Regions from separate parts of the Homo sapiens genome. Here region 1 is linked to region 2. The links come from fine-mapping of genetic effects on gene expression. A gene starts in region 2. The other region holds a variant in brackets. All regions are shown on one strand. Distances are from middle to middle.

Region 1 (17,092 bases), 92 kb before region 2:
CCTTTCTCTAAATGTGGGGGTACTTGGAGAGAAAAGGACTCCTAAACATGGCTAAAACATGTACAAACTTTACTGCTGCTTCCCATCATCCTGAGACCTGGGAGGAATAAAAGAAAGGATGGCAAGCTGAATGGGATTTTAAAGGCTAGATCTTGCCATTCTAGGTAATTAATACATGACTCCTGCTCATGATAAAGAAGGTGGTGGTGTTTGCATCAGTGTATGGATCTCTAAGGGGGCTGGGCCTGGTATCATCCAGTCAAGCATAGAGCAGAGTGTCCAGGCAGGTCCTGGCAGGTGTGGTGGAAGATTGGCAGTGGCCACTGGATGAGGTGCATGTCCTGATGCCTCAGGCAGTCCTGGACAGACGGTCATTTGGCTCCTTCTTTTTGGCATAGGTTGGCCACTTGTCAAGTGTGGCCAGGCCTTCAGGCTGGGCTGCTCGGTCATAAGTAATACACTAACCTGGCTGGGCACGGTGGCTCATGCCTGTAATCCCAGCACTTTGGGAGGCCGAGAAGGGCGGATCACGAGGTCAGGAGATCAAGACCATCCTGGCTAACATGGTGAAACCCCGTCTCTACTAAAGAAATACAAAAAATTAGCCGGGCATGGTAGCGGGCCCCTGTAGTCCCAGCTACTGGCGAGGCTAAGGCAGGAGAATGGTGTGAACCCGGGAGGCGGGGCTTGCAGTGAGCCGAGATCGCACCACTGCACTCCAGCCTGGGTGACAGAACAAGACTCTATCTCAAAAAAAAAAAAAAAAAAAATAGTAATACACTAACCCTTTAAACACACACACACACACACAAACACACACACACAAACAAGCACAGTTCCACATTTCAACTCTCATTCTGGTGCCTAAATTCAACCTGTCCTATGATTATGTTGCATTTTCAGCTTTATATTTAAGGTCTACACAGAATTCCACTACATTAGGAAACATCTTGTGACAAACCGTCTCATTACAAGTGTCATTTTCTTGAGGAACTCCCATAGAGGGTGATGTGGTTTGGCTCTATGTCCCCACCCAAATCTCATGTCAAATTGTAATCCCCACACATCAGGAAAGGGGCCTGGTGGGAGGTGATTGGATCATGGGGGTGGATTTCCCCCTTGCTGTTCTCATGATAGTGAGTGAGTTCTCATGAGATCTGGTTGTTTGAAGGCTTGTGGCACGTTCCCCTTCACTCTCTCTTGCTTCACCATGGTAAGACGTGCTTGCTTCCCTTTCACCTTCCACTATAATTGTAAGTTTCCTGAGGCTTCCCAGGCATGCTTCCTGTTAAGCCTGTGGAACTGTGAGTCAATTAAACCTCTTTTCCTCATAAATTACCCAGTCTCAGGTAGTTCTTTATAGCAATGTGAGAACAGACTAATACAGAGGGGATTGCCCATGGATCTTAATTAAGGGAGTGGGCCAGATGCTTCTTATGCACATTAAACACTGAGGACAGTGTTGTTGGCTTATATCTTGTAAAAGCTAACTTTCTACCTCTTCTTGCAGTTTGATTCAAAGAAGTCTAAAAGAGTCCTATGACACAAATGTCTTCCTTTCTAGCCACCCGTGGGGTCAAAAGTTCCTACCCTGGCACTCTTTTTGGGAGACAGAGACTTTTACGTAAGTTAAAGCACCAGGTGACCTGAAATTGCTCTAAGTTAAATGCGTCTTGGCAGGGATTAAATGGTTTGGTTGATCCCTTGTCCCAGGGCAGAGAACAAGGTGAGGAAACAGAAGCAGGGGAGAAGGCTGCAGAGGGAAGGGGCTGAGTGGCACTTGGGGTGCCCTCTGGTAGTAGGGACTGCTTAGGTGCACAGATGGGAACATGAGCAAGTGGGATTGAGGTTTGAACTCTGGGCACCCCAGAGACTGGGGAGGCCAGGAAGGTAACAAGGAGTAAACTTCAGAGGAGAGATATTTAATTAACTGCAAAGAAGACAACACATCTGATTGTGAACTCCTCATCACTGGAGTGTTCCAGAGAGCCTGGAGGATGACTTGCTGGGGAAGCTCAGGTTGAACAGAGGCCTGAGTTTGGACTTGGGCTCTCTAAGGCTCCTTCTAGATTTATAACTCTAAGTGCCAGGCATTGAATGTATAATTCCTGGTTCACCAGTTTGCCTGGGCCAACCTGGCCTGTAGTTCATGTGGTTTATGGGAATCAATCCAGGTCTGTGTAGAATTTTCTGAGGCATTAATAATTCAGTTGCAGTAAGCTCCAAGGCAGAGCCAGTAACATCTGAATATGAGTCAGTAAAAAAATGCAGGACTCAAGAAGTTTAGTTCAAATCAAAGGAAAACTCTATCTCCTGGAGCACTAACTTCCAAATTCTGGGCCACAGCTATTCTAGGAGTCAAGTGTGGTGAACAATCACCTGGGCGACACAAGGAAGCATCTCTGGGGAGAGCTGGCTCTTTGTGGTAGGGGGATGGACAGTGCCTACAGAAGTGGGGTCAATGCTCAAACACTTTATTCACATTCAAGGGAGCAGGTGGGGGAAAACAGATGAAACTATAATGGCTGGTCAGAAACTCTAGAAGGGTCATATATCAGTGACTTCATTATGCAAATCACTTCATTAGGCAGGAAAAATTTTCTGTTTCATTTACTTTTAGGAGAAAGAAAAACATCATAAGAGAGAAAAATGATATTAGAAATTTCTTTAATCTATTTGATAAGAAGTTATTTATTTACAATAAACTGCATCTATTTCAAGTATACAATACAATGAGTTTGACACTTGTATACACCCATGTCACAACCACTACAATCAAGATACAGGATATTTCCTTAACTTTAAAAACTTCTTCATACCACAGTCCATTCTCCCCTTCACCCATGGTTGTAGACAACCACTGATTTTCTTTTCTTCAGTATATATGTGGAGTCTTCAAATAATTCACAGAAAATGCATATTATGGAAAACCTATAATGGATTTAAAATATTTTTTGTGCCAAAATAAACTTGTACCAGGTAGTTATAACATATCTGAACAGGATCTAGTTTGAGGCACTAAGAAAGATAAGAAAGACATGGGTTTGAAAGACCCCCTATCACAGCAACATGAATTCTCCTAAAATTGAAGCAAGAACGAACATCCACTTGATGCTGAAGCTTGGGTGGAAGAAGGGTGAAATCATTGATGCTTCACAAAATGTTTAAGGAGGCAATGCCCCAAAGAAATCCACAGTTACAAATGGGTAACTCATTTTAAGAAGGGACAAGATGATATTGAAGATGAAGCCTGCAGTAGCAGACCATCACATCAATTTGTCAGGGAAAAAAGAATCTTGTTCCACTCTAATAGAAGAGGACCGATGATTAACAGCATGAACAATAGCTAACACCATAGACATCTCAATTGGTTCAGCTTACATATTCTGACTGAAAGATGCCCACATAAGCTGGGGCCAAGAGCAGAGCTTTCAATGGACATTTTAAACAATGGGATCAAGATCCTGAAGCATTTCTTTGAAGAATTATAACAGGAGATAAAACATGGCTTTACCAATATGATCCTAAAGACAAAGGACAAGCAACATAATGGCAGCCAACAGGTGGAAATGGTCCAGTCAAAACAAAATTGGACCAGTCAAGAGCAAAGGTCATGGTAATGGTTTTTTGGGGGATGCTCAAGGTGTTTTGCTTGCTGACTTTCCGGAGGGTCAGATAATGGTAACATCTGCTCATTATGAAAATGTTTTGAGAAAGTTAGCCAAAGCTTTGGCAGAAGGACACCCAGGAAAGCTTCACCAGAGAGTCCTTCATCATGACAATGCTCTTGCTCATTCTTCTCATCCAACAAGGACAATTTTGCAAGAGTTTTGATGGGAAATTGTTAGGCTTACAGTCCTGATTTGGCTCCTGACTTCTTTTTGTTTCCTAATCTTAAAAAAGTCTGTAAAGGATACCCATTTTTCTTCAGCTAACAGTGTTAAAACAAAACAAAACACAGTATTGACATTGTTTAAATTCCCAGGACTTTCAGTTCTTTAGGGATGAACTAAATGTCTGATACCATCACAAAAAAATGTGTCATGACTTTGATGGAACTTATGTTGAGAAATAAAGTTCACATTTTCTATTTTATCTTTTCATTCAATTCTGTTCACAAACTTTTCAACTCCCTCTTGTATTAGTTTGCATTTTACCTAAATGGAATCTTAAGTATGCACTCTATTATATGTGGATTCCTTCACTCACTGTAAAAATTATAAGATTAATTCATGTAATTGATTGTATCAGTAGTTTATTCCCTGTTTTTCTAAGTAATACTGCATTAAGTATCTCAAAGTGTACCACATTTTATTTATTCTTTCACATGTTGACGGATACTTGAGTTGTTTCTAGTTTTTGACAATTATAAATAAAGCTTCTATGAATATTTGTGTATAGATTTTTAGCAAACATACATTTCATGGATAAATAAATAAATTTCTTGGGTAAACACATAGAAGTGAGATTGCTGGATTAGGTATGCATATGTTTCTAAGAAACTGCCAACCAGTTTTTCCAAAGTACCTGCATAATTTTCCATTTCAGTCAACAATGTATGAGAGTTCCAATTGTTCTGCATATTCACAAGCACTTGATATTGCCTTTTTCTTTAGCAACCCTAATAGGTATGTAGTAGTAATTTTTTGTCTTAAATTTGCATTTCCTTAATGTGTAATGATGTTGGGCATCTTCTCGTATGCTTATTTGCCATCCATATTTCCTCATTAGTGAAGTGTCTAGATCTTTCCTCATTTAAAAAAATTGTGTCGTTTTCTTATTGCTGAGATTTTTTGTTTGTTTGTTTTGACAGGGTCTCAGGTTGGAGTGCAGTGGCACAATCATGGATTACTGCAACCTCAATCTCCTGGGCTCAAGAAATCCTCTCACCTCAGCCTCTTGAGTAGCTGGGACTACAGGTGTTCACCACCACACCTGGCTAATTTTAACCATTTTTGTAGAGACAAGGGTCTCACTATGTTGCCCAGCCTGGTCTTAAACTGGGCTCAAGAGATCCTCCCATCTCAACCTCCCAAACTGCTGAGATTAAGGGCCTGAGCCACTGAGCTGAATCTACTGTTGAGTTTTGAGAGCTATTTACATATTTTGAATACAAGTGTTCAGTCAAATGTATCTATTGAAAATATTTTCTACCAGCCTGTGCCTTGTCTTTTCATTCGTGTAAGAGTGTTTTTAACAGGTAAAAAATTTTAATTTAAATGGAGTCTAATTTATTAATTTATTTCTTTTATGGATCATACGTCTGGTGTTATAGCTAAATAACTCTTTGCTTAACTCAAGGTTATAAAGATTTTCTTATTTGTTTTCTTTTAGATGCTTTATAGATACACTTTTTAATTTTATTCTATGGCGCATTTTGAGTTAATGTTTGTGTAACATGTAAGATACAGATTGAGGTTAACTTTCTGTTCTTGTATTTTTCCTGATGACTACCCAATTGCTTCAACATCATTTGTTGAAAAGAGGAACTCTTCTGTATTGGTTTGCTTTTGCACATTTGCCAAAAATCTGTTGACTATATTTGTAGAATCTATTTCTGCATTTTTTATTTTATATGACTGATCTGTATGTGTATATTTTTTACGAATACCACAATATATTGATAACTTTAAACTTACGAGTTTTGATATTAAGTAGTGTGGGTGGTCCAACTTTTTCTTTTTCAAAACTGTTCTGGCTGTATTAATTCCTTTGTCTTTCCATGTAAGTTTTAGATTTAGCTCCTTATTATCTATGAAATAGATCTTTGAGATTTTGATTTGTATTGCATTGTAACTATTGCTCAATCTGGGGAGAATTGGCATCTTATCAAGATTAAATCTTCCATTCCATGAACATCATATGTCTCTCCATTTATTTAGATCTTGTTTTCTTTTATCAATGTGTTGTAGTTTTCTGCATACAAATTCTATACATATTTTGTAGGATTGACACCTAACTAGTTCATTTTTTGTATGTTATTGTAATTGGGACTGTTTTGTAAATTTTGAACTCTATATTTTTGGAATTCTGTGCTAGCCTATAGAAATGCAATTGATCTTTGTACCTTGATTGTGTATCCTGCAACCCTGACAAACTCACTTATTAGTTCTATGAACCTTTTGAAAATTGATTTTTGGAATGTTTTAGAGGAAAAATAATGTTTCAGAGGGAGTTTTATTTATTTTCAATCATCTTTTAAAAAAAATCTTGTTACATTGGCTGGAGTTTTTGTAAAATATTGAATAGGAGTGGTGATAGGGGGCATCATTACCTTGTTTCTAAGGTTAGGAGAAAAGCACTTAGCTTTTCAACGTTAATAGCTATAGTTGTTGTTTGTTGTATGTTGTGTGTATGTGTGTGTGTGTGTGTGTGATATGCCATCTATCAGTATGGAAGTCTCCTTATTTTTTTAGATTCCTGAAAGTTTTTTTTTTTTATGATAAACAGATGTTGAATTTTACCAAATATTTTTGTGTATCTATTGACATAATCATATGGTTTTTCTTCTTTAGTCTGTTAATATTGTGACTTACATTGATTGATTTTGGAATATTGAACCAAACCTTGTATAAACCCCTATTGGTTATGATATATTATTATATGTAGTTATTGCTGGATTTGATTTCTTAATTTTTTTTGAGAATTTTTGCATTTATGTTCATGAGGGATATTGGTCTATAGTTTTGTTTTCTAGTAATGTCTTTGTCTAGTTTGAGTATTAAGGTAATGCTGGCCACATAAAATTAGTTAAGAAGTTGTCTCTCTCCTGTTTTCTTAAAGAGATGGTATACAATTAATATTATTTCTTCCTTAAATGTTTTGTAGAATTCACCAGTGAAACAATCTAGGCCTGTAGTTTTCTTTTTTGGAAGGTTTTTAATTGCAAATCCAATTTAAAATAAATATAGTATTATCTGAGTTATTTATTTCTTCTTCAGTGAGTTCTGGTAGTTTATATCTTTCAAGACATTGAAATAATTATGTAAATTATCAAATTTTTGGACATAGAATTGTCTGTTATATCCTCCTATTTTTCTTTTGATGTCTGTGTTTTCTTTTTTTCTCCCTTGGTCAATCTTGCTACAGGGTCATCAATTTTATTGATCTCTTCTAAGACCAGCTTTTTGTTTCATTGATTTTTCTCTGTTGTTTTTCTGTTTCCATCTCGGCAATGATTTTTTGGACTTGGCAAAATGAAAAGACAACTGACATAATGGAAGAAAATAATTACAAGCTATTTATCTAATAAGGAGTTAATATCCAAAATATATAAGGAACTCATATAACTCAATAGCAAAAGAACAAATAACCCCATTAAATAATGGACAAAGGACTTAAACATTTTTCCAAAGAAGACATAAAAGTGGCCAAAAAATATCTGAAAAGATACTGAACACCACTAATCACCAGAAAATTGCAAATCAAAAGTACAATGAGATATCACATTTTGTTGATTTTTTTTGTCTAGTTGTTCTATCAATTCCTGAGAGAAGGGTGTTAAATTTTCCTACTATAATTTTTTTATTGTTTATTTTGCCTTAGTTGTATCAATTTTCACTTCTTGTATTTTGAAGCTCTATTATTATGTGTATACACATTTTTGATTATTAAATCTTACCAATTACTTGAGCTAAAAAGGCCCCAATAGATAATGTTATCATTATGAAGGGCTCTCTTTATCTTTGATAATACTGTAATTTTTACTCTTTATCTGATAGTCTGTTTTATCTGATTTTAATATATCAATTTTAATCTTCTTAAGCTATTTACATGGTATTTCTTTTTTCTTCTATTTACTGTCCATCTTTATATTTAGTCTATGTCTTCATATTTAAAACATGTTTCTTGTAGACAACATAAATTTAATCTTGCCTTTAAAATAATCCATTCTGATAATCTTTGGCATGCTTAGTACATTAGCATTTAATGAAATTACTGACATGATTGGATTTAGTCCTACCAATTTATTATTTATTTGGTTGTTCTCTTTGCCCATTTTTCTTTTGCTATTCTCTTTCTGCCTTCTTTTGCATTATATATGTATTTTACCATTCAATTTTAATGTTCTGTATTAGATTTTTAGCAATATTTCTTGGTGTAATCTTTCTAGTTGATGTACTATGGTTAGCCTTTCATAGGGTAAGTTAACTTAGAGTTAGTAATTTAAAGTTAGTCTTATACCACTTTATTTAAAATATATAATCCTTGCAATTATTTAGGTCTATTCATTTATGCCTCTACCATTCTCTATATTATGGTTACTATATGTATTAGATATATATACATTGTAAATTCTATAAGGCAATGCTAAAAGTTTGTCTCTAAACAGTCGTCTGTATTATAAATAAATTGAGAGAAGAAATAGTCTTTTATAAATATCGTTATGTTTATTCTTTTCTGAATTTTCCTGTGGTATCATTTCCCTTCAGCCTACAAAACTCAGTATAACATTTCTTGTGGTACAAGTCTGGTGGCAATGAATACCCTTAGTTTTTCATTATTTGAAAATATCTTTATATCAGCTTCATTCTTAAAAGACATTTTTGCAGAACATGAAATTCTTAGTTAATAGGTTTGTTTTTTCTACTAATGCTTTAAAGATATTATTTTACTGTATGCTTCCTTTGTTTCTGATGAGAAGCCATGATTATTCAAATAGTGTTGAATATAGTGGGTCATTTTCTTGGGGTGATGTCATAATTTTCTCTCTATCTTTGGTTTTCAGCTGTTTGACCACGATGTGCCTAAGTATGATTCTTTCAAATTTATCCTGTTTGAGATTCATGGAATTGGTTTAATCTGTAAATTTAAGTCATTAACCAGATTTCGGAAATTTTTGGCTATGATTTCTTGAAATATGTTTACTGTCCTATTATTTTTCTCCTTTCCTTTATTGACTACATTTCCACATATGCTAGATCTTTTGAAGTTGTTCCATAGATCAGTGAGGCTCTGTTCACTTTTTTCCTGTTGTTCAGATTCTTCTTATTGATTCGTCTTCTAGTTATTACCTTCAGAGGAAAGCCACATGAAGTGAAAACTCATTGTGTTCCATGGTGTTCCTTGCTGTAGCTTTAGCTCTCCTCCAAAAACTGCTTGCTTTTGTTCAGTCTCCAGAGTCTCGTGTAGATGTTTTTGTATTTTGTCCAGATCTTATAACTCCTGTTGGCAGCAAGGTCAGTTTTTTAGATGCTCATTTCCCATACAGTGAAGGGTATTGTTTTTTACCTTGAAGTCAGCACAGATTTAACACAATTCCTTACAATTTATGCAATCATATTTATAGACAGTTCTCAATTAATTTGTAATTATAGTTACCTAAGGTTTGTAAAAAATAATTAAAGGTTAAAAGCTATTCATTATACCACACTTATTTATACAAGAAAAGAACTGATACTCTCACAACATTTTTCATTTATTTATTCCTAGTTAACTAGAAAGATCTTGCTGACTCTCAATGCCTTGGTTTCTTTATCAGTCAAAAAATAGTAAAATATATTAGCTTGTCCTGAAAAATATTCTAAAGATTTTGCCTGCAAAAATGTGTGGTTAAATGCATTTGGGATATGTAGTACTAAAGAGTTGAATAGAACTTTTTGCAGTACTTTTCAAAGCCCCTAATATACTAATATGTGTTTTGAGTTTCCAAAAAGAGGACAAAGTTAGTATTACTTAGTTTTCCTTTTTTCTCAGGCTTTAATATGGCTTAGCATGCCACTGTTACTGATGCTGTCTTTCTTTAAAATCTTGATATTTTATTAATTATGGATTTTCTACATGAATCTTATCTTTTAAATGCTGCATTAAAATATTGTTTATCTTGATTACTGAGTTTTATGGTGCCCCCTTAAATTTTGCACTGCAGGCAAGTACTTTGTTTACCTCAGGTGCCTCACTTGACCCTGCACTGTCAGCAACTAAATGGATAGACTTATTAATACAGTGTTGCATTTCTTAACACATTAAATCAAACAAACTCATCAGCTTACAAGACCCTCCATGGTTTGGCTCTTATCTTATGAACCTTGCCTCACTCTTTCTCTACTTCCTTCTTGTCACGTGAATGTTTTGCACTCACTCCTCCCTCCCAAGCTTTTGTTCCTTTTCCAGCCAAAGCAAGAATGTCTCCCTCTCTCCATTTCTTCTCAGCTAATCCAAATCCTTTTTAAGAATGCTGCTTAAGCCTCAGTCCCTCCTTTAAAGCTTCCCTGATCTCTGGAGGAAGGCCACAGACTCTCTCCATTTGCTGATTTGTTGTTAATGTGTTCACCAACAATCACACACAACTTGGTCCTGAATTATGCGCTACCTAGCATGATTTCTTGATCTTCTCATGGGTGCATGTCTTGTCCCCTCTGTGGTCCAGGGCCCATGTCTCACACTTAAGAATCCTTTAACACAAAGCATTGTGTGGAGCCACACAGGGCTAAGTAAATACTGTTAATTTGATAGGTTGCTCCAGAATTCCTTGAACTCACTCTTGTTCTCTTGATCTTTGCTGTTCTGTTTTTCTTACCCTTAAATTAGGGCGGGATCCATAATCTCAGGTTCAGTTGAATTTGGGCTAAACTTATGCTCATCAGC[C/T]TTGAACTCAACTCTAAATTCTAGGTATAAACATAGGGTGAATTCCTGAAGGATCTGCAAATTTATGGACACTTTCCTGCTAACCACATGTAGATCTAATACCTGTGGTAGACTAGGCCCCAGTATGCCTCCCACAGGTATAAACAGCAGAGCTGTTCCCTTCTAGAAATGTAGGACTGAACAAGACTATACCCAATGGGGTAGTGAGTGGGGTTATGTGTGTTCTTGTAACATGTTTTCTCTCTTCTATAAGGTGAGTTGTTTTACCTTCTCCTTCACCAAGAGCCTAAAATCATGCCGGGCTTCCTGCCCCAACTTTATCTGTGTACCAAGTTAATTGCCTGTCTTATCTGCTCAGAATACTGCAACCAGGAGGGACGGATGTTCAAAGGGCACTTCATGGCTTACTGAAGGTTTTCTCCAGCATATATCTGAAGCTTATGTGGAGACAAAAGGAGAGCAAAGGATCTAATAAAGGGAAATCTGACATAACCCTCTAAGGCTTCTTTCTACTGAGTTGGTCTTCAATACCAGAAATTGAATCCATATTTTGTGCAAAGAAAATTATAATCAGTTGGACAACTGATTCTCCAAGTCTTTCTTTTGATCATAACCATTTATCAATGGATGCCTCATTCTGATGTAGCCTGAAATAAAGAGTACAGTCTAATGCTGGTTTGCTAGTTGATCCTCTTCAGAAGTGTCAGTTTAGGACTTTTTGAATGGGCAAGAGACTGCCGAATCCAGTGCCTTCTGGCATAGACAAGGAAAAAAAGTGCTTGGGAAGAGAGCTGGACAACTCTAAGGGGCTTGGGGCACGGCTTTTTTGTCTTCATGGTGTTTGTATTGTAATAATGAACACGAGACTAGGGAATGAGAATCAATTTATAGGTCAGCTATTTGTTCGACTGTGATGATCTTTTGCCAGCTCCCAGGATCCCTGAAGGTTAGTCACTTTGACCATCACAGGTAACTATGCAGAGAAAAACTCCAGGCAAACACATTGTATGTACTATTCCAGTTTTTCTCTCAAATACTTGGTGAGCTGGGCTGATCGCTCAGCTTCAGACAGGGCTAATTCTGACATCAAAAGCAGGTAGAGGAGATTTTTTGATCCCCTTGCCTTGGGCGACTCCCTATCTTCTGCCTCCCAGGTGAGGAAAGGTGAAGAGAGATAAAATCAAGGAAGAGTACCTCAAAGTCTAAGCAATGAAGGGATTTTCTTGTTGATATCTGACTCAGAGGTCACCTAAGTCCATTTGTATGTGCTTTATTATCATGGTATCCAAACCTTTCCAGCTGGTTGGGGGATAGGAAATGGGGTTTCCAAACAAGACGAAACTCCAGGATGACCTTATAAGCCATACAAAAAAATGGACTCACAAGACAATGAATACCAAAACCCAAGAAGGATGGTAGAAAAGGAGGGCTTGTATTCAAAGCTGCTAAACATGTGACCAGTTATACACTGCCAAAGCAGATTCACACAGGTATAGAATTATATACAGAGTCATCCATGGGCTTGTGTGTATAAGTAATTCATTATTGTTTTAATGATGCATATTATTTCATGGTCTGGAACACCACAATTTATTTATCTTCTTTTATTTGTTGAACATTTGAGTTGTTTTCCATTTTTGACTACTGTGAGAAAAAGCAGCTATGAACATTTTTGGAAAAGTCTTTTTGTAAATATATATGCATTTCTCTTAGATATATACTTCTAGATAAGAAGGAAGGCATGCGTTTATCTTTACTAGAAATCACCAATGAGTTTTCCAATGTGAATGCACCATTTTACACTCTCATCAGCAGTGTATGAGAATGTTGCTCCACATTCTCGACATTTGTATTGTCAGTCTTTTTAATATTAACCATTCCAGTGGGTGAGAAAAGGTATCTCATTGTAGTTTTTAAAAATAAGCTTATGAAGGTATAATTTACACATAATAAAATACACTAGTTTTAAGTGTACAGTTTGATGAGTTTTGAAAATGTATGTACCTATGGAACCACCACAACAACCCAGATGATATGGTTTGGCTGTGTCCCCACCCAAATCTCACCTTGAATGGAAGCTCCCACAATTCCCCCGTGTCATGGGAGGGACTTGGTGGGTGGGAGGTAATTGAATCATGGGGGCAGGTCTTTCCTGTGCTGTTCTCATGATAGTGAATAAGTCTCACGAGGTCTGATGGTTTTATAAAGGGGAGTTTCCCTGCACAAGCTCTGTTATTCTCTCTTGTCTGCAACCATGTAAGACATGCCTTTCACCTTGTGTCATGATTGTTAGGCCTCCCCAGCCACGTGGAACTGTGAATCCATTAAGCCTCTTTTTCCTTGTAAATTACCCAGTCTCAGGTATGTCTTTTTTTTTTTAACTTTTGATTAAAAAATTCTTTTTTTTTTTAAATTATTATTATTATACTTTAAGTTTTAGGGTACATGTGCACAACAGGCAGGTTAGTTACATATGTATACATGTGCCATGCTGGTGTGCTGCACCCATTAACTCGTCATTTAGCATTAGGTATATTTCGTAATGCTCCCCCTCCCCGCTCCCCCCACCCCACAACAGGCCCCAGAGTGTGATGTTCCCCTTCCTGTGTCCATGTGTTCTCATTGTTCAATTCCCATCTATGAGTGAGAACATGTGGTGTTTGGTTTTTTGTTCTTGCGATAGTTTACTGAGAATGATGATTTCCAATTTCATCCATGTCCCTACAAAGGACATGAACCCATCCTTTTTTATGGCTGCATAGTATTCCATGGTGTATATGTGCCACATTTTCTTAATCCAATCTATCATTGTTGGACATTTGGGTTGGTTCCAAGTCTTTGCTATTGTGAATAGTGCCACAATAAACATACGTGTGCATGTGTCTTTATAGCAGCACGATTTATAGTCCTTTGGTTATATACCCAGTAATGGGATGGCTGGGTCAAATGGTATTTCTAGTTCTAGATCCCTGAGGAATCGCCGCACTGACTTCCACAATGGTTGAACTAGTTCACAGCCCCACCAACAGTGTAAAAGTGTTCTTATTTCTCCACATCCTCTCCAGCACCTGTTGTTTCCTGACTTTTTAATGATTGCCATTCTAACTGGCGTGAGATGGTATCTCATTGTGGTTTTGATTTGCATTTCTCTGATGGCCAGTGATGATGAGCATTTTTTCACGTGTCTTTTGGCTGCATAAATGTCTTCTTTTGAGAAGCATCTGTTCATATGCTTTGCCCACTTTTTGATGGGGTTGTTTGATTTTTTCTTGTAAATTTGTTTGAGTTCATTGTAGATTCTGGATATTAGCCCTTTGTCAGATGAGTAGGTTGTGAAAATTTTCTCCCATTCTGTAGGTTGCCTGTCCACTCTGATGGTAGTTTCTTTTGCTGTGCAGAAGCTCTTTAGTTTAATTAGATCCCATTTGTCAATTTTGGCTTTTGTTGCCATTGCTTTTGGTGTTTTAGACATGAAGTCCTTGCCCATGCCTATGTCCTGAATGGTAATGCCTAGGCTTTCTTCTAGGGTTTTTATGGTTTTAGGCCTAATGTTTAAGTCTTTAATCCATCTTGAATTAATTTTTGTGTAAGGTGTAAGGAAGGGATCCAGTTTCAGCTTTCTACATATGGCTAGCCAGTTTTCCCAGCACCATTTATTAAATAGGGGATCCTTTCCCCATTGCTTGTTTTTGTCAGGTTTGTCAAAGATCAGATAGTTGTAGATATGTGGCATTATTTCTGAGGGCTCTGTTCTGTTGCATTGATCTATATTTCTGTTTTGGTACCAGTACCATGCTGTTTTGGTTACTGTAGCCTTGCAGTATAGTTTGAAGTCAGGTAGCGTGATGCCTCCAGCTTTGTTCTTTGGGCTTAGGATTGACTTGATGATGCGGGCTCTTTTTTGGTTCCATATGAACTTTAAAGTAGTTTTTTCCAATTCTGTGAAGAAAGGCATTGGTAGCTTGATGGGGATGGCATTGAATCTATACATTACCTTGGGCAGTATGGCCATTTTCACGATATTGATTCTTCCTACCCATGAGCATGGAATGTTCTTCCATTTGTTTGTATCCTCTTTTATTTCATTGAGCAGTGGTTTGTAGTTCTCCTTGAAGAGGTCCTTCACGTCCCTTGTAAGTTGGATTCCTAGGTATTTTATTCTCTTTGAAGCAATTGTGAATGGGAGTTCACTCATGATTTGGCTCTCTGTTTGTCTGTTATTGGTGTATAAGAATGCTTGTGATTTTTGTACATTGATTTTGTATCCTGAGACTTTGCTGAAGTTGCTTATCAGCTTAAGGGGATTTTGGGCTGAGACAATGGGGTTTTCTAGATATACAATCATGTCATCTGCAAACAGGGACAATTTGACTTCCTCTTTTCCTAATTGAATACCCTTTATTTCCTTCTCCTGCCTGATTGCCCTGGCCAGAACTTCCAACACTATGTTGAATAGGAGTGGTGAGAGAGGGCATCCCTGTCTTGTGCCAGTTTTCAAAGGGAATGCTTCCAGTTTTTGCCCATTCAGTATGATATTGGCTGTGGGTTTGTCATAGATAGCTCTTATTATTTTGAGATACGTCCCATCAATACCTAATTTATTGAGAGTTTTTAGCATGAAGGGTTGTTGAATTTTGTCAAAGGCCTTTTCTGCATCTATTGAGATAATCATGTGGTTTTTGTCTTTGGTTCTGTTTATATGCTGGATTACATTTATTGATATGCATATATTGAATCAGCCTTGCATCCCAGGGATGAAGCCCACTTGATCGTGGTGGATAAGCTTTTTGATGTGCTGCTGGATTTGGTTTGCTAGTATTTTATTGAGGATTTTTGCATCAATGTTCATCAAGGATATTGGTCTAAAATTCTCTTTTTTTGTTGTGTCTCTGCCCGGCTTTGGTATCAGGATGATGCTGGCCTCATAAAATGAGTTAGGGAGGATTCCCTCTTTTTCTATTCATTGGAATAGTTTCAGAAGGAATGGTACCAGTTCCTCCTTGTACCTCTGGTAGAATTCGGCTGTGAATCCATCTAGTCCTGAACTCTTTTTGGTTGGTAAGCTGTTGATTATTGGCACAATTTCAGCTCCTGTTATTGGTCTATTCAGAGATTCAACTTCTTTCTGGTTTAGTCTTGGGAGAGTGTATGTGTCGAGGAATTTATCCATTTCTTCTAGATTTTCTAGTTTATTTGCGGAGAGGTGTTTGTAGTATTCTCTGATGGTAGTTTGTATTTCTGTGGGATCGGTGGTGATATCCCCTTTATCATTTTTTATTGCGTTTATTTGATTCTTCTCTCTTTTCTTCTTTATTAGTCTTGCTAGCGGTCTATCAGTTTTGTTGATCCTTTCAAAAAACAGCTCCTGGATTCATTGATTTTTTGAAGAGTTTTTTGTGTCTCTATCTCCTTCAGTTCTGCTCTGATTTTAGTTATTTCTTGCCTTCTGCTAGCTTTTGAATGTGTTTGCTCTTGCTTTTCTAGTTCTTTTAATTGTGATGTTAGGGTGTCAATTTTGGATCTTTCCTGCTTTCTCTTGTGGGCATTTAGTGCTATAAATTTCCCTCTACACACTGCTTTGCATGTGTCCCAGAGATGCTGGTATGTTGTGTCTTTGTTCTCGTTGGTTTCAAAGAACATCTTTATTTCTGCCTTCATTTCGTTATGTACCCAGTAGTCATTCAGGAGCAGGTTGTTCAGTTTCCATGTAGTTGAGTGGTTTTGAGTGAGTTTCTTAATCCTGAGTTCTAGTTTGATTGCACTGTGGTCTGAGAGATAGTTTGTTATAATTTCTGTTCTTTTACATTTGCTGAGGAGAGCTTTACTTCCAACTATGTGGTCAATTTTGGAATAGGTGTGGTGCTGAAAAAAATGTATATTCTGTTGATTTGGGGGGAGAGTTCTGTAGATGTCTATTAGGTCCGCTTAGTGCAGAGCTGAGTTCAATTCCTGGGTATCCTTGTTAACTTTCTGTCTCGTCAATCTGTCTAATGTTGACAGTGGGGTGTTAAAGTCTGCCATTATTATTGTGTGGGAGTCTAAGTCTCTTTGTAGGTCACTCAGGACTTGCTTTATGAATCTGGGTGCTCCTGTATTGGGTGCATATATATTTAGGATAGTTAGCTCTTCTTGCTGAATTGATCCCTTTACCATTATGTAATGGCCTTCTTTGTCTCTTTTGATCTTTGTTGGTTTAAAGTCTGTTTTGTCAGAGACTAGGATTGCAACCCCTGCCTTTTTTTGTTTTCCATTTGCTTGGTAGATCTTCCTCCATCCTTTCATTTTGAGCCTGTGTGTGTCTCTGCATGTGAGATTGGTTTCCTGAATATAGCACACTGATGGGTCTTGAGTCCTTATCCAATTTGCCAGTCTGTGTCTTTTAATTGGGGCATTTAGCACATTTACATTTAAAGTTAATATTGTTATGTTTGAATTTGATCCTGTCATGATGATGTTAGCTGGTTATTTTGCTCGTTAGTTGATGCAGTTTCTTCTTAGTCTCGAT
Region 2 (17,092 bases):
ATCTCTGCCTTTGTGGAATTTATTGTATTAGTGAATGTAATACTAGAGGCAATAATAGATAAACCCAGAAATCTCAGTGAGCAAGCACAATAGAAATTTATTTTTTGTTCCTGTAAAGTCAATAAGCAACAAGGGTAGGGGGAAATGTTCAGCTCATTATATTTATTTAAGCACTTGAGTTTATTGAAAGCTCTGCTGTCTTCAATTTGTGACTTCCAACGTCACCCTGGTCATTGACATCAGTTGTCAGACAGTAGAAAAGACAGAATGGGAGCCTGGGCATTGTACACATCAGTTTTACCCATATTACATTCATCAATATTCAATCATGTGGCTTTAGCCACATATAAGGGAGCTGCAAAATGTAGCTCCTGGCTGGATAGTGACTTCCCAGCAGAAACTCTTCATTAGAGAAGGAGAGCATGAATATTTGGTGGGAAGATTGACATTCCTGCCACATTTACGTTCTGCTGGGTGCAGGAAGACAGACATTAAACATATAAGTGAGTGCACTATGTATCATTTCAGATGATAATAGTAAAAATAAATCAGGGGAAGGAATTAAGGGTGCAAATAGTCATAATAATAATTTTCTCCAGTGGCTACTCATTGGTCTATATTGTCTACAGATCACATGTGAGTTGATCCTTGAATAAGTGAAGAGGTAAGGACTTACTTTCCTGAATTGTGCAAGAGCAGCTCAGAGTGGAAAGAGAAACTTTACTTTGTCCAGCTAGCCACCAAACCCACATGGTCGTTGCCACACGTGACTCTGTGGTGACAGACTTTATTGAGTGAAAAATACATTATAAAAAACATAAGGATGATGCAGACAGATTGAAGTGGGTTTACATTTGCTTCGAGGGCCTTTTCTATTCCCTGGGCCTTTGTGTATTTGCAGTGAAGACCCAGGCTGAAGTTTACATGCTTTTAGTTTTGACTGTGTCCATTTTTTTTTATAATCTCATCTTCCTAAGAGGATTCTCCCAGATGTGTATTTGCTTGATTGATTGATTTCCTCTATAGTAATGAAGTAATGTGACCTTTATCTTAAGGAATACTAGCTGGTTAACTAACAAAAGTTTAGTTAGAATGGAACTGGTAAACGAAGTTAAATGATGCTGAGAATCTATGAAATGACGGAAGAAACTTCTGTGTTTAGTAAAAGGCAGACGCTTAGATATTTGTGAAAACATAACTCATCCCTTGCACTGTGGACACAATTCAACAAACATTTTTTGATGCTTCTATAGATCTGGCTCTATGCTAGGCACCAGTGAAACAGTGGTAAACACTGTTCTGCTCCTAATCTCAGGGGCCCACTATCTAGGCAAGAGAGAAAGACACTTTACCAACCAGAAAGCTGGATTTCAGCCAGACTAAGAAGGGCCATAAATGCTATGCTAACAATCCTGGTTTTACTAGTGAAGAACCATCAGAGAGATAACTTTTCTGCTGGGAAATGGGTGACGGATGTAGAAACTGGCATTTGCTTGTCGTGCGACAGTTGGCAAGTCAACCTCTCTGACTCTCACTTGCTTTTGTCTGAAAAAGGAAGATAAAAATAACTTCCTTACTTACCTCACAGGGCTATTATAAGGATCAAATGAAATCAAGATGTGTGAAAGAAATGTTATTCATAGTCAAGAACTATTATTAGGATTACTTAATAATATAGATGTCTGAGAGAACAAAGGAGTATTGGGTGTTGAGTAGTAATGCTCTGAGAATATGGCAAAAATCTTTCATCCAGAGTGGAGCATATGTAGGAGTGAAACCAGTCTTGGTTAAAAAAATCTGAACAATGGAATATATTGAAAAAACATTTTCTTTCTTTTAAAGTAAACTTTGTTGTAAATAAAGAAAATGAACAAGAATGCCCTTAGGTTACAGACAAGAATGTACATCTGGTTGAAAAGAAAAAGGACGGAGCAGACTGGGAAGAAGCTGCTGCAGAGGCAGGATAAAGGCCAGCAGTGACTTCTAAAGAGAGCTAGAGACACAGCCAGGGCACAGAAGGCCAGGGCATGAATTCAAAAGCACTAAAGTCTCCACAGATGCTGGTCTAGCTCTGACCAGCCTTTCAGGAAACACTCCATAGTCTTTCTTGAATCATCTTCTTCCAGGAAGTACTTGGCCCTGAGGGAGCTCACTCTTCAAAAAATAAGTTATGACTCTTGGCAGCATTTTTACTTTTCTTATCTTTTATGATTTCCTGAAAGTGTGGCTCCCACTGGGAAGAGGTCTGTGTCCAGAAGGCCTCAGGGCTTATCTGGATTTTCTATGAATTTTAAAGCCTCACATGCCAATGCAGTGTATATTAAAAGCCAAGATATCTCTTAGGAGAATAAGGTAAGTTAATGTAATAAAATGTACATCACAGTTGGTCTATTACCAGGTGGTAAAATTCCATTACTTCAGCCAAAATTTCAGAATTCATCCTAATGTGAAAAGCATATACAGTAGATATTCAGTATGGAAAAAGTTCTGACTTTAGATTTTTTTCCCTTCATTTATACTATTTTGAAAAGTACCAAAGAAGAGACTGATGTCAGCAAGATGGTGGAATAAGATTTTTCAGCACTCATCCTTTTGCAGAAACATCAATTTAAACAAATATCTATGCAAAAAAAAATGCCTTCACAAGAGCTAAGAATACCAGCTGAGAGATTATAGCACCTGGGTACAGCATAGAAATGAGAAAAGATGCATTGAAGAGGGTAGGAAGAATAGTTTTACATTATCTGTGTTACCACTTCCCCAACCCTAGGCAGCACAGTGGAGAGAGATATCCTTCACTTGGATATCTCTCCAAGATCTCCAAGGAGATATCCAGGGACAGGGAATTGAGCACTAAACTTTGCCTTGGACCCAACACTGGGTCCACTAGAGTAAAACCCAGAGCCAGGCAGGTGTCCGTGGGCCCAGACTCCAATCCACTTGGGGATTAAACCTCCAAGCCCACTCTGGTGCCAAGTGTGACCCCACAGCTTCAGGTTCCACCCTAGCACCCTAAGCCAGCCCCTGCACATTCAGGTTCAAAACTTATCCCAGCACCAGGTCAATGCCTACAGACCCAGACATCAAGCATCAGTGGAAATAGGCTCCAGGCTTGCCCTCACCAACTCAGGCTCCAGGCCTACTGCCCTTGGATTCAATCAATAGGTCTACCCCAGTGGATCCTGACCCCAGGCCCACTCACCTGCTGACCTAGGCATCAGGCCAGTCTTCCTGAAGGCTCCAGCAGAAAGCCCACTCTCAGATTATACCAGACAACCTGCCCCAAATCTCTGGACGGGCTGACTGGTGAAAAACTTTCCCAGACAAAGCCAGTTTGCAAATACTGGAATAAGTCACTACTTCTTTAAATGCTCAGATATCAACAGAAGGCAGAAAGAAACATGAAAAAGCAAGTTGATAGAACACCACCAAAAGAATAATCTCCCAGTAGCTGACCCCAAGGAAATAGAGATATAAAAACTGCTTGACAAGGATTTCAAAATAATTGTTTTAAGGAAGTTCAGCCAACTTCAAGAAAATATAAAGAAATTCAAAGAAATCAGGAAACACAATGCACAACCAAAATGGGAAATTTAACAGTGATATTGAAATTATTTAAAAAGACAGAAATTATAGAGCTGAAAAATACAATGAATGAAATAAAAATGCAATAGATAGCATCAAAAGCAATACTGATTAAGCAGAAGAAAGAATCTGTGAACTAGAAGACAGGTTATTTGAAAACATACAGCCAAAGGAGAAAAAAAATGATAAAAAGGAATTTTAAAAAAGCTTATGGGTCTTATGGGACAACCTCAAAAGTACAAATTTTGAGTCATAAAAGCTCAAGATGGAGAAGAGAGAGACAATGGAGGTATAAAGCTTATTTAAAGAAATAATAGCAGAAAACTTTACAAATATGGGGAAAGATATAAATACACAGGTAAAGAGGGTCAAATGTCTCCAATAAGGTTCAATTAAACAAAACTATACCAAGACACATTATAATCCAACCATTAAAAACCAAAGAGAGGATCCTGAAAGTAGCAAGAAAAAAGAAGCAAATAACATATCAGAGAGTTCCAATGAAATTAGCAATAGATTTATCAGCAGAGACTTACAGGCCAGGGATAGTGGGATGATATATTCAGGATGCTGAAGAAAAAACTCTGCCAACCAAAATTATTGTACCTCAAAAGCTGAAATGAAGGAGAAATGAAGGAGCGATGAAGAAGGAGAGATAAAGACTTTCCCAGACAAAAACTGGAAAGAATGTTTACATCGCTAAGCTTGTCTTACAAGAAATGCTAAAGGAAGTTCTTCAAGCTGAAAGAAAAGAACACTAATTAGTAATACAAAAACATATGAAAGTGTAAAACTCAGTGGTAAAAGTAAATACACAGTCAAATTCAGAACACTCTAATTCTGTAATGGTGGTGTGTAAATTGCTTATATATTTAGTATGAAGGTTAAGAGAAAAAACTATTAAAAATAATGACTACAATAATTTGTTAAGAGATACACAATATAAAAAGATGTAAATTGCAGCTTCAAAAACAAAATGTGAGGGAGAATGGAGCAAAAGTTTAGGGTTTTTTATGCAATGAAAGTTAGGTTGTTATCAGCTTTAAATAGCCTGTTATAACTGTAAGAGGTTTTATGTAAGCTTCGTGGTAACCATAAGGGAAAAACCTACAGTAGATACACATAAGATAAAAAGTAAGCAATCACAGCATAACACTAGAGAAAATCACTTAATCACAAAGTAAGAAAACAAAATAGGCCAAAAGCAACAAAAGATCTATAAAACAACCAGAAAACAATAAAATGGCAGTAGTAAGTCCTTACCTATTAATAATTACCTTAAAAGTAAATAGATTAAATTTTTTAATCAAAGGACATAGAGTGGCTGAATGGAAAAATAAATAAATAAAACAAGACCCAACTATAAGCTGCATACAAGAGACTCATCTCACATTTAGGACACACATAGACTGCAAGCGAAGGGATGGGAAAAAATATCCATGAAAATGAAAACCAAAAAAGAGCAGGTTGGCTATACATATATCAGATAAAATAAACTTTAAGTCAAAAACTGTACAATGAGGCAAAAAATTATTATATAGTGAAAAGGGGCTCAATTTCTCAAGAGAATATGACAATTGTAAATATATATGCACCCAACATTGAGACACCTAAATATAGGTCTAATCCCAGCACTTTGGGAGGCCAAGGTGGGCAGATCACCTGAGGTCAGGAGTTCATGACCAACCTGGCCAACATGGTGAAACCCCGTCTCTACTAAAAATACAAAAATTACCTGGGGCTAAATGGGAGTGCTTCAATGGTGGGTCTGTGAGCAAAGATTGTGAACTTGTTCAAGACAAATGAGAAAAAGAGAGTACTTCTTCCTAGGAAAAATTTCATCAGCCTCTCCATGCCTTTGTTATAAACAGACAGAGGCCCCATTTAACTGGTCTAGAGAATTTTGGAACCAAACATGAGGGTGGCACATGCCTGTAATCCCAGCTACTCGGGGGGCTGAGGCAGGAGAATTACTTGAACCAGGGAGTTGGAGGTTGCAGTGAGCTGAGATCACGCCACTACATTCTAGCCTGGGCGATAGAGCTAGGCTTGTCAAATAATACAGAATTTCAGTCAGATAGAAGGAATAAATTCAAGAGATCTGTTGTGCAACATGGTCACTGTAACTTAATAACGATGTATATTTTGAAAATCTCTACGACAATTTAAGTGTATTCACCAGAAGAAATGATAAATATGTGAGGTAACATGTATGTTATTCAGCTCAATGGAGCTATTTAACAATGTATACATATTTAAAAACATCATATTATACATGATAAATGTGTATGATTTTAATGTTAATTAAAGAAATAAAGTCACAGAGAAAGAAAATGGTGGCAAATACTTTGCTAAATAATAAGTAATCATACTAATTCAAGTTTTTGTCAAATGTCAGTATTTGGGGTTTCAACTAGTTATTACAGAGCTGAAAATTCTGCATGACAACACAAACCCTTATTGAAAATTTATTTCACTTTTATCTTTCAATGCTCCATAGTAATAGAGAGGAATTTCACCTCTAGTTAAGAGAGGGGTTGAAGATTTGCTGAGTGGGGAGAAGCACACCAACATTAGTTTCTCCTGTGGACAACAGATTTAATCTATGTTTTATTTCATTCAGCTAAGAGTTGGTCCTTACCAAGCAATTATGGCCACCTCCGTTTTGTAAATGAGAATACTGATGCCAAGAGAGAGATTTTTGCCAAAGGCGGCACACAGAAGTGGTGGAGCTAACATTCAAGCCAGCCTATGGAACTCCAAAGCCTGAGCTCTTTCCTCAGCCCGTCCCTTTAGCTTTTCCTGGAGCATTGGCTGGGGAATGCCTAGGAGGAAGGGGAGGGCTTGTTAAATTGGGTAGATTAGTGCATGGAGGAAAAGCCTCTCAATCAAAGAGGTGTGAGGGTTTGGAAGAATTGACTAATTACAAAACATGCCCTAGGCTCAGTCTCTCTCTCTCCCCAGCTCCTTCCTTCTTTCTTTCAGGGCAGAATTTCTCCAGCTTGGCTCTATTGACATTCATTGTTGTTCATTTTATTGGGGTGGGACTGTCTTGTGGTTTGTAGGATGTTTAGTGGCATTACTGGCCTCCATCCATTAAATGCCAGTAGCATCCCTCCCCAGTTGTGACAATAAAATATATCCCCAGACATTGCCAAGTGGCTTCTGGGGTAGGGAATCTCTCAGATTTAACAACCGGTTTTGGTTTCGGTTTTGTTTTTGAGATGGAGTCTCACTCTGTCGCCCAGGCTGGAGTGCAGTGGCATGATTTCAGCTCACTGCAACCTCCGCCTCCTAGGTTCAAGTGATTCTCCTGCCTCAGTCTCCAGAGTAGCTGGGATTACAGGTGGCCCACTGCTCCCAGATAATTTCTGTATTTTTAGTAGAGATGAGGTTTTACCATGTTGGCCAGGCTGGTCATGAATTCCTGACCTCAGGTGATCCACCCACCTTGGCCTCCGAAAGTGCTGGGATTATAGGTGTGAGCCTCCATGCCCAGCCAACAACCAGTTTTATAGTGACCAACCATCCCAGTTTGCCCTGGACTGAAGGATTTACTAGGATCTCTGAGGCATTTGTCAGGGATTCAAGGCTAAAACTAGGATAGTCCAGGGCAAACTGGGATATTTGGTCAACCAACAAGTAAAGTTTCATCTCCTGGTTAAATTAAGGCTGTGGTGAGAGGGGGCATTGTGTTGATTGTGTGGTTGTCCTGTCAGTCTTCAGTTTCTCTAAGCTGTTGCTATATCAAGTACATCTGCCTAATACTCCTTTCTTCCCCCTCAGGTAGCCTGCTAGGGTTGTAGGGGAGGTGTCTTACTTAAGGAAGGCTGGCTGAGCCACTGTATGGGTCATTACAGGACAGAAGAAGACCAGAGTGAATGCTGGTCTCTGTGTGTTTTTTTTTTTTTTTTTTTTTTTTTTTTTGCGTGTGTGTGTGTGTTGAACTAAAGAACTGGTAGGGGCAGTTGGGAGGGTGCTGGACTGCAGAGAGCCCTTTAGTGCTGCTCCAGTGGACGTGCACATCTGTGTTTCCACTGAGAGTTAATGGATATTGGATGGGGAAAGGTTTTCAGCTATGTGTTACTGTAGCCTATGACTATGTGGTATGAGCATTTTAATTTATTTGGTGTTTTGAAATACTTTTATGAGTTACTCTGACAACTTGTCAAGGATATTTTCCTGAGAGAAACAAATAAAAGACAAATCTCAAAAATAGTTTGCTATTAGGATTTTATTTGTTGAGATGTTGAAGATGTCTTTTCAACAGTGATACATGTTTTGGTTCTTTGCAAATTTACAAGGCACTCCCAAAATGTCATTTGTCCCTCATTCTTCTATTCTTGATATCATTCTATGATCCTGTACAGGATGAAAGCAACTGAGTTCTGAAGGTAGTAAGTAACATGCTGAGGTCAAATGCCAGGATTTGAGTCAGGTTCATGGGGCTCCATGTCCTGTGACCTCTCTGCTCCACCAGGCTGTGAAAGAATGACTCTTGCATTCATGCAGTCAGTCTGTGTTGCTGTAAACCTGAATGGTAAAATGACAAATGTAGACACAGAGGGTGTGAATCAGCTCTATTAGCAGTGACTCTGAGAATAGTCCTTTCCCTCCTCTGTCTTCCCCTTCTCTGTCTTGCAGCAAGTGGGAGGACGAAGCAGGTTTCATAAGAGCAGCGCCCAAGACCCACAGTCGCCTAGTGCCAAGTCAACAACCTTACTGATATCTGGATGTAGTTTCCTGTGCTCTTTGACACAGGTGTGGAGATTGTAATTTGCTGTGTGTGATTGTTTGCACTTCCTTGATTATGTAAACCAGTGGCTTTTGCCAAGAACTCTTCATGCCCTGAAGCTCTGAGCTGGTTCCCTCCCATTGGTGGACCTTATTTCATTTTATTGGGAGGCGTAACTTTCAGGTCACAGAGCAGTGATAACTACCTGCCAGTGTCTCTTAGGAGTGAGGTACCTGGAGTTCGGGGACCCCAACCTGTGACAATGACAGCAGACAAATTGGTTTTCTTTGTGAATGGCAGAAAGGTAAGTAGGAGCTGACCTTTGGTTTTGTGTCCCTTCTCCCTGGGAGGGGAAATGTGTCCTCTGGCAGAGCCATATCTTGTTCTCTGTCTTTCCTGTCCCCTCTTACTTGTTCTGTCTTTCTCTCTCTCGCTTTAAAGGTGTCGCTGCATTTTGGTAACATTAGGGAAGAAGACCTTCTCGGGGCTAGAGCACAGACAAGATACTCAGAGGCCAAAGAATGAGGGAGAGAGAGGCAAGCAGAGAGGCATCTGTGAGCTAGCTGCCAACTCTCTGCAGTAGTGGAGATTGGCACAGAATGAGAAAGGGGAGTTGAGTTCTAGGTGAGATTTGAGGTCATCACCACACTTCTATTTCTGTCTTTAATCAAATATATCCTAAAATTTACGTTGCTCTCTTTACAGAGAGAAGGAACAGGAATGTGTTTTCCTGCTTTTATCAGGATATAAGATGTACGCAGCCTTTGATTCTAATATATTATATATATAGGTTTAACAGCCAGTCCTGATTCACTGTGAGGTGACATATACTGACACCTTGTGGCAAACCACAATTTTTTTTTCATAAAGGGCATCTCCTGCATTCCCCCCACTCCCCACCCACACACAGTGAGTTCTACATGTAAGCTGCAAATCTGTTACCTACTTGAATTTACCTTATTGGTACACAGGGACTTAGGGAAGGTGACATGGGTACCAGCCCTTGGACAAGAGTGAGAATCTTTGCAAATTTTAATGTGGTGCAGAGAGAGAGGGGGCAAGCATATTACATGGTCACTAGCCTCCATTTGCCCTCCTACAACACTGCTGAGATGCTCATACCTGTTCAACTTCCCACTTAGGAATGAAAAGGATAGTAAAAGAGTCCCATAGTTGCACATTGTAACTTACTGTGTGGACTGTGCGTGATGAATGTGCCCAAAGTGTCCCCCAAAGAAGGGCAATTTTATTTGTCTTTCTATATTGGCATTTTTGCATTGAGTTGAGAAACTTTTGATGTAATTTTGAGTGACTTTTGGTATAATTTTCAAGAACAATAATGTGCTTCACTGGACTCCTAGGTCTTAAATTTCCAGGATGTGTTTGGGTGACTGTAAAAGAAATTTCATGAACTGTTTCAACGTCAGTGCTCCAAAGATTGATGGACTCTCTTTGAGTGGTGCCTTTGGGAAGTGCTGGGGAATGGGGACAGCCATGTTCTTCTGGGTTCAGAGTTTCCTCTCTGAGCTGCATCCTTTTCAGGGTTGGCACCTGGTACCAACCCAAGAAGTAGGGCAAAGCTTTCAAGTGTAAGATTTTGCATCCAGCATTTCAAACAACTTCTTTCCTTCAGCAATTACATTGTAGAAATCTAGGAAACCATTGTGCAATTGGCTTTCTAGGAGAGCTACTTACACAAAGCCATCTCTGGAATTTTTATTAGTAATTTTTACATTGGGTAAACAGCTAGATTCAATGACGTCCAAGGTCATGTCTTACTCTGAGGTTTTATTATTTATTAAACCAAACCATTGGTTAACCTGTAAAAGTATAAGTTTCTGCTCTTCTTCAGGGATGGCTTGCTGTTATGCACTAAATCTAGAAAGAAGAATTTCAAGGTAAATCTGGCTTGGGGAAAATTATTTTCCCTTGCATTTTACTTTCACTTTAGGAGAGTAATTTTAAATTTTTCGATGGTACCATCACATCAAATCCTATTATTTCTAGAAGCTTCTACTACTGCCAGTTTCTGTGATGAATATCCATGTTTGTAATTTATAATGATGTAGCATCTTCAGAAACTGCAAGAAAGGTAGAGGGGCAATGCAGAAAGTAATTATGTGAAAGCAATGCTGTAAAAACAAGACCAAGCAAGGGAATTCCTGGGTAAACAATGGCAGCTGTGAGAAAGTTGTCCTCATTTTTATTCAGAAGATATTCTAGACCTTTTGTTACAGGAATTGTGCAAAGTAGTTACCAAAGAAGCTGTAAGAACTTAGTGACTCTTTTTTTTTATTATTATACTTTAAGTTCTAGGGTACATGTGGACAACGTGCAGGCTTGTTACATATGTACACATGTGCCATGTTGGTTTGCTGCACCCATTAACTCGTCATTTACATTAGGTATATCTCCTAATGCTATCCCTCCCCTCTCCCCCCACCCCACGACAGGCCCCGGTGTGTGATGTTCCCCTTCCTGTGTCCAAGTGTTCTCATTGTTCAATTCCTACCTATGAGTGAGAACATGCAGTGTTTGGTTTTTAAATGTGAGCCTACTCCTCTCCTTGTTTTGTACCACTGTCCAGGACTCTGGCTTCACTAAATGGGGTCCTGCAGAAGGTGTTCGATGCAAGAAGTCGAATACCTCTAGGGCCTTCTGTGGTGGTGATGAGCCTTGATGACTATTGTTTTCATTCACATCTTCTTTTGTTCTAGAGTCAGAGTCAAAGGGAAAGAGCTGTCCAGTATTTTATTTTTATTGTAATGACAGCCTTTTTGCAAGGCAGCATTCTAGCTTTTCTGAGTAGTCACTCTGTCTAGCTGAGACTGTGGCACCTGGAAGAATCTGGGAGGATCTGGCAGGTTGGGTGCAGCCAAAGGTGTCCAGGAGTGATCCCCACAAGAAGTGAGTGTCAGCTACAGAGATCGTCACGGTGACTTTCACTCACTCACTCACTCACTCACTCACTTACTCATCATTCACTTGCTCACTCCCCATATAGTCAACATTTATCAAGCTCCTTCTGAGGCCTCAGACAACAGGATATGCACTGGGGGAATAAGATCTCCAAGATCAGGCATTTGCCATTCTGGAGCCCATATACTAGTTAGAGAGATGGATTATAATTAGACAAAGTAATACCTTCTGAAATGTATTTCACAGAAAACTAGCAGCATGAGATGCTCTTCTTGGATATTCTTAAACCACTTAGCACAGTGCATGGTATACAGTAGGTGTCCAACTAGTGTGGATGGAATAAGTGGATGAATTTTTAAAACTTTGAGAAATCCTGTAGTAAATAAATTACTTCTCTAACTTTGTATTTTACAATTATTTTATATTTAAAGAAAAACTGCAAGAAGAATACAAGGAAATACTAAATACCCTTTATGTACTTTACCAACTGTTAATGTTTTGCCACATTTGCTTTATTATTCTCTCTTTCTCACTCTGGACACACACACAGATACACATGTATGTATTATAAGTACGTAAATAATTCTATATATTAATGTACATAATTAATATAAATGAATATATAGTATAAGATAGATTTCTGAACCTTTTGACAGTAAGTTTCAGACATCATGTTCCTTTAGCTCTTATCCTAAGAATAAATATATTCTTTTTTTTTTTTTTTTTCCTGAGACAGGGTTTCACTGTGTCGCCCAGGCTGGAGTGCAGTGGCGCGATCTCGGCTCACTGCAACCTTGCCGCCTGGGTTCAAGCAATTGTCTGCCTCAGCCTCCTGAGTAGCTGGGATTACAGGCGCCCACCACCGTGCCTGGCTAAGTTTTTGTATTTTTAGTAGAGTTGGGGTTCTACCATCTTGGCCAGGCTGATGTTGAACTCCTGACCTGTGATCCACCCACCTCGGCCTCCCAAAGTGCTGGTATTACAGGCGTGAGCCACCGCGCCTGGCCAGAATAAATATATTCTTACAAAACTGTAGTCCATTTATAGAAATCAAGAAACTTAGCTTTGGTGTAATACTATAAACTTTATGCAAATGTATTCCAATTTTCCCAATACTGGCATTTATAACTCCCCAACCCCAGCCCGGAATCCAAGATTACGCCTTGCAGTTGGTTGCCATGTCTTTAGTCTCCTCTAATCTAGAACAGCTCCTCAGCTTTCCTTTCATGACATTGGTGTTTCTGAAAAGAACAGGCCAGTTTTTTTTTAGAATGTTCCTCACATTGAATTGTATTATGCTTTCTTGTAATTAGATTCAGAGTCTGCATTTGGGGGGCAGGAATACCACAGAAGTAATGTGTTTTTCTCACTGCATTCTGTCATTATGTTTGTTTTTTTAACGTCAGTTTTTGGGTCTTTTTTGTGATGCGAACTTTGGTGACTTGGCTAAGGTGTTATCCACCACGTTTCTTCACTGTAAGGTAACTTTTCTTTACCTTTATAATTAATAGAGGCTATGTGAGAAGATAATTTGGAATGATACAAATTCTTGTTCATCAAATTTTCACCCACTAATTTGAGTATCCATTGATATTCTTTTTTTAAATAATTTTTATTGTGGTAAAATACATAAAATTTACCATCTTAATCATTTTTATGTGTACAGTTCAGTGGTATTACATACATTCATAATATTGGGCAACCATCATCACCGTCCACCTCCATAACTTCTTTCATCTTTTAAGACAAACTCTATAAATTTACTAAATAATAACTCCCTATTCTACCTTTCTCCCAGTCCCTGGAAACCATCATTTTTTCTGTCTCTATGAATTTGACTAAACTACCTCACTTAAGGGGAATCATACAGTATGTCTTTTTGTGACTGGCTTATTTCATTTAGCATAATGTTCACCTATGTTGTAGCATATGTCAAAAATTCCTTCCTTTCTCAGGTTGAATAATATTCCATTGTATGGATGTATCACATTTTGCTTATCCATTCATCTATTGATGGACATTTTGGTTGCTTTCACAGTTTGGCTACTGTGAATAACGTTGTCATGAACTCAGGTGTATAAATATCTGAGACCCTGACTTCAATTATTTTGGGTATAAATCCAGAAGTGGAATTGCTGGATCATATGCTGGTTCTATTTTTACTTTTTTGTGGAACTGTCCTACTTATTTTTCCACAGTGGCTGTATCATTTTGCATTCCCATCAACAGTGGACAGGTGTTCCAGTTTCTCCACGTCCTTGCAAACAGTTATTTTCTGTTTATTTGTTTGTTCGTTGATCATAGCTATCCTAATGGGTATGAGGTGAAATCTCATTATAGTTCTGATTAGTGATGTTCAGCATCTTTTCATTTATTTGCTGGCCATTTGTAGATCTTTGGAGAAATGTCTATTCAAGTCCTTTGCCCATTTTTGAATTGGGTTTTATAGTTGTTGAGTTTTAGGAGTTCTGTATTACACTTGATCTCATAGTCACTGATGGCTCATTGCAACATTTACATAAAAACCAGAAGAAAAGAGAAGAAGGGGAGATGGAAAGACCTTTAATTTTTAATTTTTGGGGGTACATAGTAGATCTACATATTTATGGGGTACATGAGATACTTTGATATAGGCATGCAATGTGTAATAATTACATGATAGAAAATGTGGTATTCATCTCCTCAAGCATTTATCCTTTGTGTTACAAATGATCTAATTATACTTTTTTAGTTATTTTTAAATGTACAGTTAAATTATTATTGACTGTAGTTATTCTGTTGTGTTATCCAACACTAGGTCTTTTTCATTCTTTCTATTTTTTTGTACCTATTAGCCATCCCTACTTTCCTCTTACCCCCTACTACCCTTTCCAGCCTCTGATACCATCCTTCTACTCTATCTCCATGAGTTCAATTGTTTTGATTTTTAGCTCCCACAAATCAGTGAGAACATGTGAAGTTTGTCTTTCTGTACCTGACTTATTTCACTTAACGTAATGACCTCCAGCTCCATCCATCCATGTTGTTGCAAATGACAGGATCTCGTTCTTTTTTATGGCTAAATAGCACTCCAGTGTGTATGTGTACCACATTTTCTTTATCCATTCATCTGTTCACGGACGCTTAGGTTGCTTCCAAATGTTGGCTGTTGTGAATAATGCTGCAAAAAACATAGGAGTGCAGGTATCTGTTTTATATACTGACTTCCTTTCTTTTGTGTATATACCCAGCAGTGGGATTGCTGGATCATATGGTAGCTCCATTCTTAATTTTTGGGGGAAACTTCAAACTGTTCTCCATAGTGGCTGTACTAATTTCCATTGATGATTCTTAACTGGATCAATTGTGTTGATTACAAGATGGCCAATCATATTTATTAGATGACATTCTTCTGCCAGGAAGAGCTTTTCCATATCTTCCATTTGTTTGTTTGTTGACTCTATTTGGACTCATAGGTTTTAATTGTATTTAATGTATTATAGCCCATTATGGCTGTTATTTCTTTTGATGCTCAAGTTTTACCAGAGCAATCTGCTTAACCCAACATTTCCTTAACTCACTTCCCTACAAAATGTTTTTCCTTTGGGATACCCATTGGTATCCTGTTGAGAGTGTTCAATGGAGTGCACCATGGTAATCCTGCTGTCACACCTTGAGAGTGGCACAGTCATTCTCTATAGCAATCCACTTGTGGCTGGAGTGATAAGGAAAGCCTTTATGAAGAAATTGTTTGAAGTCTTCTGATAAGTCAAAATGCAGGTGGAAGAGGAATGGCATAGTCAAAGGCACAGGAATTAGAAGATATAAAATGTATTTTTAGTGCACTAAGATGACCAGCTTGGCAGGGAAGTAGAAGGGAGAAAGGCTGAAAATGAAGATTGGGAATATATTGAAAAGGGCCTTGAAAGACAGCCTAAGGAACTTGGATGTTACCTTGAATATGTGGGTGGTCATGAAAAGCACTGAGCAGGGAACTGATGTGATGTGATAAAAGCAGAACTGCAGTACGGGAGAAATGAACAATGTGGTGGTAAGCTAAGAGGCTCTTAATGTTGTCTACAAGAAAGGTGATAAAGATTGCTATTTTGTGCATTTATGATTACTTCTATGATTTGTAACCAGGATATTGAATAAGCTGGACTCATGGGGTGTAATCACATAAGAAAATTAATTTCATCTACTTTCCTTTAAACTTTATTCAAAGGACAAATTCTGGCAGTTTCATGAACTTTTTATTACTCTTAGTCAATAAAAAATCTTATGGTTATTTTTAAGTTGCCAAACAGTCTCAATTCAGGACGGCGGGGTGAGGATAGCAAGAAAGCTCTCCTTTAATTGGTACTATTGTAAGATGGCTTCCGGCTTTCTGAGCCTTTTAGGTGTTTGGAGCTGACCTTTCATTCTTCTTGTGATGGCTTTCAAGGATCTTCAAGGGCCACCACAGGGAATATTTGCATGCATGTCTCATGATATGAGTGATGCACTTTTCTCAGGCTGCTGTTCTCCATCAGCCTCCAGTTTGGGGAAGTCCACTCCACACAGTCTCTCTTTATTGAATGCTCTATCCTGTATTTTGGGAAATGATTTAAAGACCTCCAAGCCAGCTCTTTTTATCTCATGAATGGCTTGCATTACATCCATAGGCGACACTTCCACATCCTCTGCTCTACCAAGCTCCGGGAGTGTATACCAACCCCAGCACAGCCACCTCTCCAACTTAAGTTTAATGAGGAGTTTAAACTTGTCATTGTCGGTATTAATTTCTTGTTAAGCCTATCTCTTCCCCTATGCTGCAAAGGTGGCATGTTAGATTTTTATGTAGCACAAAGCAAGCTCCCTCACTAAGTTTGAGGTGGGAGGCAAATATTCCTCCCCTTCTCCTTTAGGAAGGTGTGGGTAGTATAGTTCCCTCCAACGAAAACCTTATCATGAATTCTTTCTCTTTATTATCCCAATAATATACACCCTTTTAAGCTTTGGTAATGTGTGAAGAGTACTGAAATCGGTTTTTGTAGATTTCCTTTGACAATTCACAGTGGGAACTGACATCGCACTTTCTAGACCACTTTTTCCACCTTATTGAACCTAGTGATGGATCTTTGGTTTGAGATTTCTCTTTCATTTCTGACATGTATTAGTGTTGACTAATACGCATCACATGCCAACACTCTGCTCTGAGCACAGGCCAACAGAATGGCCTTCCACAGTCACATGCAGGATCTGAGATTGTATACTCAAAGAGGCAAAGTCCGAGATCTGCATGCCATGCTCTCAGATGCCCCTGAAATTCACAGGTGTGATCTAGCAGTTGAAATGAGATGACAGGTTTTATTTGAAGGGGATTTGGCCTTGGTCGAGCCAGCGTGGAAGGTGCAATGCCTGCATGTTCTGTGGTGGGTCCCAAGGTGAGCATTGAGGTACAATTTTAGAATTTAAGGATTTGAGTATATACATTGTCTGGCTGTAGTTTATAGGTTCATTCTTATGGAGTTGCCATAAAAATACCTTAGTTTTCATGATCTATTTAGCACATTGTATTAGGCCATTCATGCATTGCTATAAAGAAACACCTGAGGCTGGGTAATTATAAGAAAAGAGATTTAGTTGGCTCACAGTTCTGCAGGCTGTACAAGCATGACACCAGCATGTGCTTGGCTTCTGGGGAGGCCTCCAGGAGTTTTTACTCATGGCAGAAGGCAAAGTGGGAGCAGGCACATCACATGGCCAGTAAGAGCAAGAGAGAGAGAGAAGGGGGTGATGCCACATACTTTTAAATATCTCGTGACAACTAATTCACAACTAAGGGGATGGCACTAAGCCATTCATGAGAAATCTGCCCCCATGATCATATTG

Alleles and levels. Alleles are on the strand shown, and positions count from the first base shown. SD is a standard deviation of normalised expression in the study named.
For the expression in unexposed skin of the gene that starts at base 8,507 in region 2, allele C in region 1 goes with a higher level than allele T (small effect, 0.28 SD a copy in GTEx).

Evidence for each region. PIP is the estimated chance that this variant, and not a neighbour inherited with it, causes the effect.
Region 1: its variant is the best candidate, but not a certain one, in a credible set for the expression of XDH in unexposed skin (GTEx, PIP 0.72).

Annotation. Positions count from the first base shown.
Region 1 is chr2:31,498,359-31,515,450 of GRCh38, reverse strand. No RefSeq gene overlaps it. Among named protein-coding and RNA genes, the nearest start is that of SRD5A2, 74 kb to the left of the region's middle. The variant C/T (reference allele first, on the strand shown) is at 10,588.
Region 2 is chr2:31,406,157-31,423,248 of GRCh38, reverse strand. XDH (xanthine dehydrogenase) reads left to right here and starts at 8,507. Exons shown (of 36, transcript NM_000379.4): 1 at 8,507-8,624. The coding sequence starts at 8,583. RefSeq lists an enhancer at 6,719-6,768.